Linked DNA regions of Homo sapiens. The protein of the gene in region 1 purifies or fractionates together with the protein of each later gene. This does not show direct contact. Each region holds a gene or a part of one and is shown in the gene's direction. Other genes may lie near its edges.

The links. Proteins that work in one complex are often made in the same cells at the same time.
Region 2: the proteins of DSG1 (region 1) and CSTA purify together in Homo sapiens (affinity purification with mass spectrometry, with the first as the bait; one large-scale study listed by BioGRID). This does not show direct contact.
Region 3: the proteins of DSG1 (region 1) and SERPINB12 purify together in Homo sapiens (affinity purification with mass spectrometry, with the first as the bait; one large-scale study listed by BioGRID). This does not show direct contact.
Region 4: the proteins of DSG1 (region 1) and SULF2 purify together in Homo sapiens (co-immunoprecipitation; one large-scale study listed by IntAct). This does not show direct contact.

Annotation. Positions count from the first base shown.
Region 1 is NC_000018.10:31,349,160-31,352,659, forward strand, and holds part of DSG1 (desmoglein-1 preproprotein), read left to right. Parts: intron 1-3,500. UniProt on the Homo sapiens protein: Component of intercellular desmosome junctions. Involved in the interaction of plaque proteins and intermediate filaments mediating cell-cell adhesion.
Region 2 is NC_000003.12:122,331,748-122,335,247, forward strand, and holds part of CSTA (cystatin-A), read left to right. Parts: intron 1-3,500. UniProt on the Homo sapiens protein: This is an intracellular thiol proteinase inhibitor. Has an important role in desmosome-mediated cell-cell adhesion in the lower levels of the epidermis.
Region 3 is NC_000018.10:63,559,369-63,562,868, forward strand, and holds part of SERPINB12 (serpin B12), read left to right. Parts: intron 1-209; coding exon 210-350; intron 351-1,716; coding exon 1,717-1,834; intron 1,835-3,500. UniProt on the Homo sapiens protein: Inhibits trypsin and plasmin, but not thrombin, coagulation factor Xa, or urokinase-type plasminogen activator. May play a role in cell differentiation.
Region 4 is NC_000020.11:47,663,482-47,666,981, reverse strand, and holds part of SULF2 (extracellular sulfatase Sulf-2 isoform a precursor), read left to right. Parts: intron 1-493; coding exon 494-722; intron 723-824; coding exon of another isoform or gene 825-894; intron 895-1,025; coding exon of another isoform or gene 1,026-1,028; coding exon 1,029-1,125; intron 1,126-1,688; coding exon 1,689-1,783; intron 1,784-2,792; coding exon 2,793-2,852; intron 2,853-3,359; coding exon 3,360-3,500. UniProt on the Homo sapiens protein: Exhibits arylsulfatase activity and highly specific endoglucosamine-6-sulfatase activity. It can remove sulfate from the C-6 position of glucosamine within specific subregions of intact heparin.

The DNA of each region.
Region 1 (3,500 bases):
ATCCAGTTTCACCTTTCTACATATGGCTAGCCAGTTTTCCCAGCACCATTTATTAAATAGGGAATCCTTTCCCCATTGCTTGTTTTTCTCAGGTTTGTCAAAGATCAGATAGTTGTAGATATGCGGTGTTATTTCTGAGGGCTCTGTTCTGTTCCATTGATCTATATCTCTGTTTTGGTACCAGTACCATGCTGTTTTGGTTACTGTAGCCTTATAGTATAGTTTGAAGTCAGGTAGTGTGATGCCTCCAGCTTTGTTCTTTTGGCTTAGGATTGACGTGGCGATGCGGGCTCCTTTTTTGGTTCCATATGAACTTTAAAGTAGTTTTTTCCAATTCTGTGAAGAAAGTCATTGGTAGCTTGATGGGGATGGCATTGAATCTGTAAATTACCTTGGGCAGTATGGCCATTTTCACGATATTGATTCTTCCTACCCATGAGCATGGAATGTTCTTCCATTTGTTTGTGTCCTCTTTTATTTCCTTGAGCAGTGGTTTGTAGTTCTCCTTGAAGAGGTCCTTCACATCCCTTGTAAGTTGGATTCCTAGGTATTTTATTCTCTTTGAAGCAATTGTGAATGGGAGTTCACTCATGATTTGTCTCTCTGTTTGTCTGTTGTTGGTGTATAAGAATGCTTGTGATTTTTATACATTGATTTTGTATCCTGAGACTTTGCTGAAGTTGCTTATCAGCTTAAGGAGATTTTGGGCTGAGACAATGGGGTTTTCTAGATATACAATCATGTCGTCTGCAAACAGGGACAATTTGACTTCCTCTTTTCCTAATTGAATACCCTTTATTTCCTTCTCCTGCCTAATTGCCCTGGCCAGAACTTCCAACACTATGTTGAATAGGAGTGGTGAGAGAGGGCATCCCTGTCTTGTGCCAGTTTTCAAAGGGAATGCTTCCAGTTTTTGCCCATTCAGTATGATACTGGCTGTGGGTTTGTCATAGATAGCTCTTATTATTTTGAAATACGTCCCATCAATACCTAATTTATTGAGAGTTTTTAGCATGAAGGGTTGTTGAATTTTGTCAAAGGCTTTTTCTGCATCTATTGAGATAATCATGTGGTTTTTGTCTTTGGCTCTATTTATATGCTGGATTACATTTATTGATTTGCGTATATTGAACCAGCCTTGCATCCCAGGGATGAAGCCCACTTGATCATGGTGGATAAGCTTTTTGATGTGCTGCTGGATTCGTTTTGCCAGTATTTTATTGAGGATTTTTGCATCAATGTTCATCAAGGATATTGGTCTAAAATTCTCTTTTTTTGTTGTGTCTCTGCCTGGCTTTGGTATCAGAATGATGCTGGCCTCATAAAATGAGTTAGGGAGGATTCTCTCTTTTTCTATTGATTGGAATAGTTTCAGAAGGAATGGTACCAGTTCCTCCTTGTACCTCTGGTAGAATTCGGCTGTGAATCCATCTGGTCCTGGACTCTTTTTGATTGGTAAGCTATTGATTATTGCCACAATTTCAGCTCCTGTTATTGGTCTATTCAGAGATTCAACTTCTACCTGGTTTAGTCTTGGGAGAGTGTATGTGTCCAAGAATTTATCCATTTCTTCTAGATTTTCTAGTTTATTTGCGTAGAGGTGTTTGTAGTATTCTCTGATGGTAGTTTGTATTTCTGTGGGATCAGTGGTGATATCCCCTTTATCATTTTTTATTGCATCTATTTGATTCTTCTCTCTTTTTTTCTTTATTAGTCTTGCTAGCAGTCTATCAATTTTGTTGACCCTTTCAAAAAACCAGTTCCTGGATTCATTAATTTTTTGAAGGGTTTTTTGTGTCTCTATTTCCTTCAGTTCTGCTCTGATCTTAGTTATTTCTTGCCTTCTGCTAGCTTTTGAATGTGTTTGCTCTTGCTTTTCTAGTTCTTTTAATTGTGATGTTAGGGTGTCAATTTGGGATCTTTCCTGCTTTCTCTTGTGGGCATTTAGTGCTATAAATTTCCCTCTACACACTGCTTTGAATGCGTCCCAGAGATTCTGGTATGTTGTGTCTTTGTTCTCGTTGGTTTCAAAGAACATCTTTATTTCTGCCTTCATTTCGTTATGTACCCAGTAGTCATTCAGGAGCAGGTTGTTCAGTTTCCATGTAGTTGAGCGGTTTTAAGTGAGATTCTTAATCCTGAGTTCTAGTTTGATTGCACTGTGGTCTGAGAGATAGTTTGTTATAATTTCCGTTCTTTTACATTTGCTGAGGAGAGCTTTACTTCCCAGTATGTGGTCAATTTTGGAATAGGTGTGGTGTGGTGCTGAAAAAAATGTATATTCTGTTGATTTGGGGTGGAGAGTTCTGTAGATGTCTATTAGGTCCGCCTGGTGCAGAGCTGAGTTCAATTCCTGGGTATCCTTGTTGACTTTCTGTCTCGTTGATCTGTCTAATGTTGACAGTGGGGTGTTAAAGTCTCCCATTATTAATGTGTGGGAGTCTAAGTCTCTTTGTAGGTCACTCAGGATTTGCTTTATGAATCTTGGTGCTCCTGTATTGGGTGCATATATATTTAGGATAGTTAGCTCTTCTTGTTGAATTGATCCCTTTACCATTATGTAATGGCCTTCTTTGTCTCTTTTGATCTTTGTTGGTTTAAAGTCTGTTTTATCAGAGACTAGGATTGCAACCCCTGCCTTTTTTTGTTTTCCATTGGCTGGGTAGATCTTCCTCCACCCTTTTATTTTGAGCCTATGTGTGTCTCTGCACGTGAGATGGGTTTCCTGAATACAGCACACTGATGGGTCTTGACTCTTTATCCAATTTGCCAGTCTGTGTCTTTTAATTGGAGCATTTAGTCCATTTACATTTAAAGTTAATATTGCTATGTGTGAATTTGATCCTGTCATGATGATGTTAGCTGGTTATTTTGCTCGTTAGTTGATGCAGTTTCTTCCTAGTCTCGATGGTCTTTACATTTTGGCATGATTTTGCAGCAGCTGGTACCGGTTGTTCCTTTCCATGTTTAGTGCTTCCTTCAGGAGCTCTTGTAAGGCAGGCCTGGTGGTGACAAAATCTCTCAGCATTTGCTTGTCTGTAAAGGATTTTATTTCTCCTTCACTTATGAAGCTTAGTTTGGCTGGATATGAAATTCTGGGTTGAAAATTCTTTCCTTTAAGAATGTTGAATATTGGCCCCCACTCTCTTCTGGCTTGTAGGGTTTCTGCTGAGAGATCTGCTGTTAGTCTGATGGGCTTCCCTTTGAGGGTAACCCGACCTTTCTCTCTGGCTGCCCTTAACATTTTTTCCTTCATTTCAACTTTGGTGAATCTGACAATTATGTGTCTTGGAGTTGCTCTTCTCGAGGAGTATCTTTGTGGCATTCTCTGTATTTTCTGAATCTGAACGTTGGCCTGCCTTGCTAGATTGGGGAAGTTCTCCTGGATAATATCCTACAGAGTGTTTTCCAACTTGGTTCCATTCTCCCCATCACTTTTAGGTACACCAATCAGACGTAGATTTGGTCTTTTCACATAGTCCCATATTTCTTGGAGGCTT
Region 2 (3,500 bases), on another chromosome or scaffold:
CCCACAAATGTAAATCTCTCTTCAGTTGTTCATTGCCTCCCACCCCCATGGTCCCTCCAGCAGGATGTCTCAGTTCCTACTCTTCTTAGGCCAGCTGTCCCCAACCTTTTTGGTACCTTTGTGGAAGGCAATTTTTCCACAGATGGGGTGGAGGGGATAGTTTTGGGATGAAGCTGTTCCACCTCAGATCATCAGGCATTATTTTCTCATAAGGAGCACGCAACCTTGATCCTTTGCATGCAGTTCACAATAGGGTTCCCACTCCTATGAGAATCTAATGCTGCCGCTAATCTGACAGGAGGCGGAGCTCAGGCCATAATGCTCACTGGCCCACTGCTCCCCTCCTGCTGTGCAGCCCGATTCCTAACAGGCCATGGATGGGTACTGGTCTGCAGCCCAGGGGTTGGGAACACCTGTCTTAGGAGATTGCAGATCTCTGGTAAGAAAATGCCCCAGCTGACCCTATCTCTTGCTGGATCTCATTCCTCCCTAGACTCTATTCTCCTCTCTTCAGCCAGTCCTTCCTCTCTTAGCCAGGTGACTTCATTTCTTGCATCCTCAATGCCTTGTCCCATACTTCCTTCTTCCTTCAAAACATACTTAGACAATAAATGTCCACAAGTCACATCTTACTGGCCCTACTGTCCTTTCATGTTACTATTCAAACTCTCCTTCCTTACTCTCTAAATCTCCCCCAAATGTAATTCATCCACTTTGCCATCAATATCTTTCTATCTATTTTCTATTAAATTAGGCACAGTCCTATTGTTTCTGTAGAATGACTACAGATTAGGGGAAAAGCCTGAGTGTTGGGTGCCTCATGGCTCAAATCCTCAGATCTCAGAGAATAAACACCTCACCAAGATTCATGCTCAGTAGCAATGAGAAATGCTTGAAGAACTCTGGGTTAAATGCATTATACCAGGTGCTTCTCCCTGGTAGCCTCCTCCCCGGCTGGAGACCAAGCGACAAACCTCCACTGTATTCCTTGAGCTCCCGTCACCATCACGCGTGGCAGACTGAGAAAGGTGAAGGCCAACTGCATTCAGCAGGAGATGTGTCCGTTCACCGCCAGTCTCCCACCACCGTTCCCAGCTGGCCTGCATCCTCCTAGTGCCCATCCTGGGGAGTCTTTCAGCACCAAGCTACCTTCTGAGACTTAAGTTTCACTGACAAGCTCCCCTACTCTGCCCCTTTCCCTGCTCCTCAGCTCAAATCTCATCACTCAGGTCCATGTCATCTAACATTAAACCATGCAAATCTATTTTACTGGGAAGAGGGAGGGAGGCTGCAAGTTACAAGTAGAGTGAACCAGAAATCAAGGTCCACAGTCTGACAGGTGCCAGAACACTTCAAGAAACAAACCAGATCTTTTAAATCCCCTCTCTCATGGAAAATTCTGCATTTGTGGATTACACAGATACGATGGAAAAGTTAAAGATTTGGATATATTTCTAGGACAGATAGAAATAAAAACTTAGGGCCAGGCATGGGGGCTCACCCCTGTAATCCCAGCACTTTGGGAGACCAAGGTGGGTGGATCACCTGAGGCCAGGAGTTTGAGACCAGCCTGGCAAACATGGTGAAACTCCATCTCTCCAAAAATATAAAAAATTAGCTGGGAGTGGTGGCAGATGCCTGTAGTCCCAGCTACTCATGAGGCTGAGGCAGGAGAATTGCTTAAACCCAGGAGGGAGAGGTTGTAGTGAGCTGAGATTGTGCCACTACACTCCAGCCTAGGTGACAGAGCAAGACTCCATGAAAGAGAGAGAGAAGAAAGAAAGAAAAGAAAGAAGAAAGAAAGAAAGAAAGAAAGAAAGAAAGAAAGAAAGAAAGAAAGAAAGAAGAAAGAGAGAGAGAGGAAGGAAGGAAAAGGAAAGGAAAGGAAGGAAGGAAAAGGAAAGGAAAGGAAGAAAAAAGGAAGAAAGAAAGAAGAAAGAAAGAGAGAGAGAAAGAAAGAAAAAGAAAGAAAGAGAAAGAAAGAAAGAGAAAGAAAGAAAAGAAAAGAAAGGCTGGTTGGCTTAGGATACGTGCTTAAAAAGAAACATGACTGAAAAGCAGAAGGAACACAGATCAGATATATAAGTTATCATGCAAGGACTTTAAAATAACTATGTTGAATAATTTTTCAACTTTAAGCAGTCATGCTCAACTCATAGCCTTACATTCTCCATTCATAAAATGAGGTTTAAATGGATACTTTGGGGGTTAGTGTAGAGATTAACTCTTTCAAACTCAGCTCCTAACTTGACTGGTGCCAAGTACTGGCCATCCCTCCTTTGGAATTTTGAAAGGCTTTGGAAAGGGACCCTAAGACAATAACCTGTTTCCTTACTCTACTTCTCTGTGCATCCTTTCTCCGCTCTCCTGCCCCTAGCTCTTCCCACTTCTGGTTTGTCCTCACTATTTGTCTTCTCCCTTTCTCCACTTTGAAATTTCATTTCCATCTCAACAGAACAATCACACTTTTCCCGTCTATTCTCAAGGTTACAGGAGAACTGAGTGGTGGTCCGTGGAGTGTTTGGCCTTTCAGAAATGGTCTGAGAACTCACAGTTTGCATATGTCTACATCTTTGAAAACAGTTCTGGTACTCAAACTGAGGCATCAGTAGTAAAGGTTCAAAACATCTGCCCAGGGAGGATTGTTTGAGTCCGGGAATTCGAGGCTGCAGTGAACTATGATCACGCCACTGCACTCCAGCCTGGGTGAGGGGGAGATTCTGTCTCTTAAATTTAAAAAAACAAAAAACAAAAAAAACCTGCCCACTGATAGGAAGGACTGCCTTGGGAGAATCCTAGATGGACTGGAGGCCTGATTGAAGTTGTATGGACATGCAATGCTTTCATGAAGGGCATAAAAGCAAGTTCTCAATAAACAAGGTACATTCAACACAGAGAGTTATATCCTTTTTCCTCCAAAAGACAGAAAAGAATTGGGGTTGAAGGACAAATCCACAGACATAAAGACAACAGGAGATAGGCAAGTACCACCTCAGAAATACCAATAAAATTTTGGAAGTTGGAAAACAGATGAACAATGGAAAATGCTGAGCAGTCTAAACAGAAGCTAAGCCCATAGAGGGGAAAGTCTAAGCCAGAAGCAAGCAGATTCACACTGCAGAACGTCACAATGGCGCAGGCATGAGCAACACCAAAAAGTCGTAGCCAGGAGTAAGGTCTCAGACCAAAAGCAAGAGGACTGATCTGTATGAAGGACAGTGAGACCTCCCATAGTTCCTTCTCCCTCACTGTCCTCCACCCCGGCAGAAGACGAGCTTTACACTTAGCAGGAACTGAGTCAAGAGCTCATAGTAGACTCTTGCATATCAGGCCCAGCTGAGAGTGGGAATGAAGCACTGTACAGAAAGTTGATGGGCTCAGTAAAAGTTTACATATTGAATTTGGGACTGTCTCCCTTCTCATGCTGGGTTCGGGAATGCTGACATTTAAACCCAACCCATATCCCTCCATGGTAGACAGAATGATGGCCCTCCAAAGAT
Region 3 (3,500 bases), about 32 Mb from region 1:
TGTGGGAGCCATAATCTTCCACTGGGACCACTTCTCACCCTCCATTCCTCTGTTCTTCCCAGCTCACTTCCCCCAGCATGGTAACAGAGACAGCTGACATCTTACTAAGAAGCTCTATCTTGCTTCTGTACAAAACACGCATCTTTTAGCGGTGTTTAGCTCTTCTGATAGACACAGTGAAGGTCACATTTTGTTTCTTCTTTCCTTAGGCTGGGTCCTTAAACAATGAGAGCGGACTGGTCAGCTGCTACTTTGGGCAGCTTCTCTCCAAATTAGACAGGATCAAGACTGATTACACACTGAGTATTGCCAACAGGCTTTATGGAGAGCAGGAATTCCCAATCTGTCAGGTGAGTTGCACACGAATGGTGACTAAAGCTACCATGTAGCATACTATTTAAAAATCAGGGAGTAGCTGGGTTACTCACCTGCCATCTAGAACACAAACCTCTTTGACAGGATGATGCGCTGTGGACTGGTGAGGTGTCCAGGACCTCCCTCTTTCAGTCCCACAGTTTTCTTCTCTTCCCAGTGTTCAATGTGAGCAGTTTACGGGGCCCATTGTGGGTGGAATAGAGTGGGTGGGAAAAGGTTGTGTGAGTAATGGAGGCTTTGGAGCACGTGTGGGCTTGGTAATGGCATCCTCTCCTGACTGTCTTCCCCAGTCAATGTGCCTGGTTGCTGCACTTCTCTCTCCCTTATCTGTTAGGTGCCCCCAAGACATTTCTGTGGAATCTCCTTTTGTGCCAGGATCAGGCTACCCCCGCAATGCAATTGTGTTCACTATGCTCTTTTGAGAGTGGGGTAGCAGGAGGAGACTGCGTTTTGGCATTTGGAGCTGAAAGGCACAGGACTTGTGTCTGTGGCTAAACAGCTTCGTACCTAGAGCAAGCTGTGTCTCCATCTGGGCTTCAGTTTCCTTTTGAATCACTAGAAGGAGCCATGTGCTAAATAATAAATGTGGGGGATATGACCAATGGCAAAGACGTGACATGGTTGGTTAGAGCAGGACTAGCCAGGGGTTGGGTGGCCTCCTTTGGCCAAAATAAGTGTGTTTCCTTGCAATGAAAGTAAGATTTTTCATGCTGGATTTTTAAAAACTAGCCTTTTGATGAGCTATAAATTCATATATTAAACAATTCACCTGTTAAAAGTACACAAACCAATGGGTTTGGTATATTACATTACTGATTTTTTAAAATTATAGTAAAATACATATAAAATTTACCATTTATGTGTACATTTCAGTAGCATTACTTACATTCACAATGTTGTGTAACCATCACCTTATCTATTTCTAAAACTTTTTTTTTCATCACTCTAAACAGAAACTCTGCAACCATTAAGCGGGAGTTTAATTCTTAAAAACAGAAGCATTTTCCAGCCAAGTCTCTCAAGTTACTTGATACTTACCTTGTGATGGCTCCACAGATGGTTTGTTGAAATAAAAGGATATCCAGTAGGAAAGGCTTGTCCCGTTGTAACTATAGACTGTTCATGAATAATATTTGATATCCTCATTTTTCACTAAAAAAACTGAAATGTCTCTGGCTAGTTTAAGACTGGGGATGGCTAGAAACTGTCAGGCCTGTCCATGAAATGTGAAATGACCAGGCTCATCTTTCTTGGGAGACTTCTCAGGAGAGTCTCACTCCTAACTACGAGCATCACTGCCTGACTTTATTGCATTATTTCCCTTTTATTCCAATGGAACAGGAATACTTAGATGGTGTGATTCAATTTTACCACACGACGATTGAAAGTGTTGATTTCCAAAAAAACCCTGAAAAATCCAGACAAGAGATTAACTTCTGGGTTGAATGTCAATCCCAAGGTAAGAAAGCCCAAAAGCACGGGAGCTGGTATTGGTTTCCATTTAAAAGAAAATTGGTCTGCCTAGCTTTGCAGACTGCTGGTCTACTGGGGGCCAGAGGTTCACATATGTGGACTGTGTTCAAAGCATGGTTTGCAGAATGAGATACCATCTCACACCAGTCAGAATGACTATTATTAAAAAGTTAAAAAACGACAGATTCTGTCAAGGCTTCAGATAAAGGGGAACACTTATACACTATTGGTGGGAATGTAAATTAGCCATTGTGGAAAGTAGTTTGGAAATTTCTCAGAGTTAAAACAGAGCTGTCATTCGACCCAGCAATCCCATTACTGAGTATATATCCAAAGAAATAGAGATCATTCTACCAAAAAGACATATGCACTCATATGTTCATCACCACACTATTCACAATAGCAAAGACATGGAATTAACCTAAGTGTCCATCAATAGTGGGTTGGATAAAGAAAATGTGGTACATATACACCATGGAATACTACACAGCCATCAAAAAGAATGAAATCATGTCCTTTGCAGTAACATGATGGAAATGGAGGCCATAATCCTATGAATTAACACAGGAACAGAAAGGCAAACATTGTTCTCACTTATAAGTGGGAGCTAAACATTGAGGACACACAGACATAAATATGGCAAGGAACAATGAACCCTCCAGATACTAACTTGGGTCAGGGAGGGAGAGAGGAATGGGTTGAAAAACTACCTATAGGGTACTATGCCTACTATCTGTGAGCAACATGCCATGTAACAAACCTGCACATGTACTTCCTGTATCTAAAATAAAAGCTGAAATTTAAAAAAAAACAAAACAAAAAAGCATGGTCTGAACAGCATCAAACAGTTAAACTGCTTAGATATTGCTGTTATTTATTATTGCAGTTTTGGTCTCTGGTCTTGCTGGCTCTGGGCGGGAAAGGAGGACACCAGCCTCGTTAGTGCTGATCTTCTAGGTGGGGCTTAGAGAATGCTCCCTTCTACCGGTGCCCGTGTGAATTTGAAAAACAGAATAAACTCTTCCCTCCAGGACCAAAGTTAGTGACCTGAAGGGTCAGGTCAGGCTGCTGGACATAGACTAGGCCCCTTTTTGATCATCGTGTGGGGCTGGCGAAGGTGTTCGTGTACAGTGAAAAGTTTGGAGTGCATGAGAGAGCACAGGTAGTGCATTATGTCTCCTGCCTTCAGAGTGAGACCATGACCCCAGGCATTTGCATACATTTTGAGTGGCTGGAGGCTGGGAAATGACAGTTGACTTATTTTAGGCTGTCCTTGGTACCAGAGTGACAGTTTCGGTTCCTCCCTTCCATTTGGTGGCTTTCTCTCCCTGTCTCCTCTTTTTCTCACACTGACTTAGGGATGGGATACCCCTGCCTGCCTTTCCTTGGGAGAAGTCTCTAAATTCCAAAATTATTGCTTTTTCCTTCTTTCATAGGCCATAAAAATGACCATTCTTTCAAGGCTCTACTCAGCTGTCAAAAGGAAAGCAATTCATTAATGAAGCTCATATTAAGGCCTGGATATGTACTTTCCCCTTAGTGAGTTAACTCCTCCAGAAAATTTGAAATGTAGATGATGTCAACCTAATCTATTATTATGGGATTTAAATAGAGCTCTTCTTGAGATGGAAGATCTTTTCTTCTTAAGACAT
Region 4 (3,500 bases), on another chromosome or scaffold:
TCCCCCAGCCCCTGGCAATCACCAATCTTCTTTCTGCCGCTATAGATTTACCTATTCTGGGTAGTTCCTATAAATAGAATGTAACAATACGAGCCCGCTTTGTGTCTGGCTGGTTTCACTCCGCCTGCTTTTGACATTCATCCACGCTCTAGCGTGAATCAGAACCTCGCTCCTGGTTCTGGTCGCATATTCCGTTGTACAGATGATGTACCGCCATTTGTTTACCCGCAAGCAGCTCTCGCTTGAAATCCTCTTGAGTCAGTGGCTTCTTGGCTCCAGGACTTCCGTCTTGCCGGTGTGATCACCTCGAGGCCCTCCCCTGCGGTCCAGGATCTGCGAGCAGGCGGGTAGATTCCACGACCCCTCGAGTCGCAGGCAAAGCTGAGCCTCATGCTTGGAAGCCCGGCCCTATCTTGATGAAGGACCCACTGCCCTGGGAGCCTGGCCAGCCTTTCCTGCCTCCCTAACTCTGCCACTCCTCTAATGCCCACAGAGTACAAGGCCAGCTATGTCCGCAGTCGCTCCATCCGCTCAGTGGCCATCGAGGTGGACGGCAGGGTGTACCACGTAGGCCTGGGTGATGCCGCCCAGCCCCGAAACCTCACCAAGCGGCACTGGCCAGGGGCCCCTGAGGACCAAGATGACAAGGATGGTGGGGACTTCAGTGGCACTGGAGGCCTTCCCGACTACTCAGCCGCCAACCCCATTAAAGTGACACATCGGTGAGTGTCCAGGTGGAAGTCGAGGGTGAAGGGGACAGGACAGACCTCGGCAAAGGGCTTCCCACACCTCTTGGGCCCCTGAGGACCAAGATGACAAGGATGGTGGGGACTTCAGTGGCACTGGAGGCCTTCCCGACTATTCAGCCGCCAACCCCATTAAAGTGACACATCGGTGAGTGTCCAGGTGGAAGTCGAGGGTGAAGGGGACAGGACAGACCTCGGCAAGGGCTTCCCACACCTCTTGGGCACCTGGGCTGCTCCCCCTCCACCACCTCCGAGCCACACGTGATCCCTTCTCTCAAGCAGGTGCTACATCCTAGAGAACGACACAGTCCAGTGTGACCTGGACCTGTACAAGTCCCTGCAGGCCTGGAAAGACCACAAGCTGCACATCGACCACGAGGTGAGTGGAGAGCGGGAGAGGAGCATGCTCTCGGCCACCACGGGCCTGGCAGGACCCCCGGTTCACAGTGGGAGGGCAGTGAGGCCAGACCCAGGGAAGAGGCTGGAGAGGTGAAGTGAGGTCCCCACAGATTCCTCAACGCGGGGATAGGTGTCAGTCCCAGCATGAGACAGATAGCTTCCTGCCCAGGCCGTCTGAGGGACGATGGCTTAGCCACGTTGTCCCCCTTTTGACTTACAAGAAGTCTACGCTACAGGAGGCCTTTCATCAAACCCAGGGGAGACACTGGAGGCCTCAGTGGGCTCAGCGGGTTCCTGCGCAGGCCAGGCCGGAAAAATGACTCGGTTCCCTTGCAAGGGCTGGCTGGAGGAGAAGGCGGGCTTCCTTCAGGCAGAACAAGTACCTCCTCCCCACCCAGACATGCCGGTGCTTGCCCTGGGGCCCGGGGAGTGCAGGCTGCCGCTGCTGAGCACAGACACGGCAGCGTGGGGGCAGTCACCAGGCCAAGTCTTTGTTGTCCAGCCTTGAAGGTTTCAAGGCCTCCTCTTCTGCCCCTCCCTCAGATTGAAACCCTGCAGAACAAAATTAAGAACCTGAGGGAAGTCCGAGGTCACCTGAAGAAAAAGCGGCCAGAAGAATGTGACTGTCACAAAATCAGGTGAGGCAGTAGCAAAGGGACCTCCCTAAGACCCCACTCTCCTACAGGACAGTTCAGTTCATCCCCTCTCGTGATTGACCCCTTTCATTTTTTATTTTTATCTTTATCTTCTCCCCTCATGGCATTAAAAAAATCCGTAATTTACCTCCCTGTTGTCAGCCAGTGTGGCACACGGACCTGCTCCTCAGCCAGGCTGGCGCCCAGATTCCAGTACTGCTAGCAAGAGACCCGTGCTGGCTGCGCAGAGCCGGCTCCAGGCCGGAAAAGTGCCTCTGCCGATTGCCCTTTCAGAAATCCCCCATGTGGTTTGAGGTCCATGTTCCCGGCTTAGGGGTCCCCTGGCCCAAAGGACTGAACTCTAGAACAGCTCTAATAGAACATTCTGTGCTGACGGAAATGGGCTATATCTGCACTACACCACACGTGGCTGGTGCATACTTAAAATTTTGGCTAGTGTCACTAAGGAGCCAAATTTTTTATTTTGCTTAATTCAAATTGAAGTAGCCACCTGTGGCCAGTGGCTACCATACTGGACAGCACAGCTGTAGAAGCCCTGCTGTCTTTCCAGAAAGTGTTGCAAAACACAGGCTTCCCTGTGTTGACCCCGACCAAGTGTGAGTAGGCAGGGTGGTGAGGGAACCAACCTCAAGATGCTGAGGCTTTGACATGTAAAATTAACCATCAAAAAAGAAAGGAAAAAGGATGCTGAGGCTGATGCACCTAAAGCCAGGCCCAGCTTCTAGTCGTGGCTAAATTACAATTAACCCAACCTGCTAAAGTCTAGCAAAAGTCCAGGCAGAGTCCTGGCTCATGCTTGGAGAAAGAAGCCACTCAGGCAGGCACCTGCTGCCCTGAGGATAGGGTCATGCCCTACCCACCACCACCCCAGAAGGAGGGACAGGGGTGGGGCAGCAGCAACACATGGGAGTCCCAGAAATCACAGCTTGCACCTGCCAGCGGAGCCCTCTGAGCCACTCCTGAAGCCTGGGGCTGGGGGGGTCTGTTACAGCTACCACACCCAGCACAAAGGCCGCCTCAAGCACAGAGGCTCCAGTCTGCATCCTTTCAGGTAAGAGCAGCTTGAGGTCCTGGGGAAGAGATGCAGAGGCCTGCATGAGGAGGTGGCCCTCCCTTAAGCTAAAACTCAGAAGAAAAGGAAAGAAGTCCAGGCCCTTCCCTGGGAAGTCCACGGTAGCCCTCGAAGAGGCCTTACTTCCCAATCAACACTGAGCGGGCCTCCGACGCCCCCTTGTGGCTAAATGGGGTTACCGCAACTCCACCAAGCAGGGCAGGACACAGGAAGGAGGGGAAAGGGGTGTCAACAGGAGTCCCAGTAGCTGCCTGGTTCTGTCCCCAGCTTGTGCCCCCTTGGGAGTTAAAGTAGAATGACAAGACCCAGGTTCTGGTCCCGGCTCTGCCTTGGAGCAGCACTGGGACTTGGGACCCTGAATTGCTATGCCCATGGCTCTCTGTTGGAGAAGCCTCAGCGAAGCCCTTAGGTGGACAGGAAGAGCAGAGACATGGGGTCACTGATCCCTCAGAGGCCCAAGGTGTGTGTGGCCCTCTGCGCCCATAGGAAGGGCCTGCAAGAGAAGGACAAGGTGTGGCTGTTGCGGGAGCAGAAGCGCAAGAAGAAACTCCGCAAGCTGCTCAAGCGCCTGCAGAACAACGACACGTGCAGCATGCCAGGCCTCACGTGCTTCACCCACGACAACCA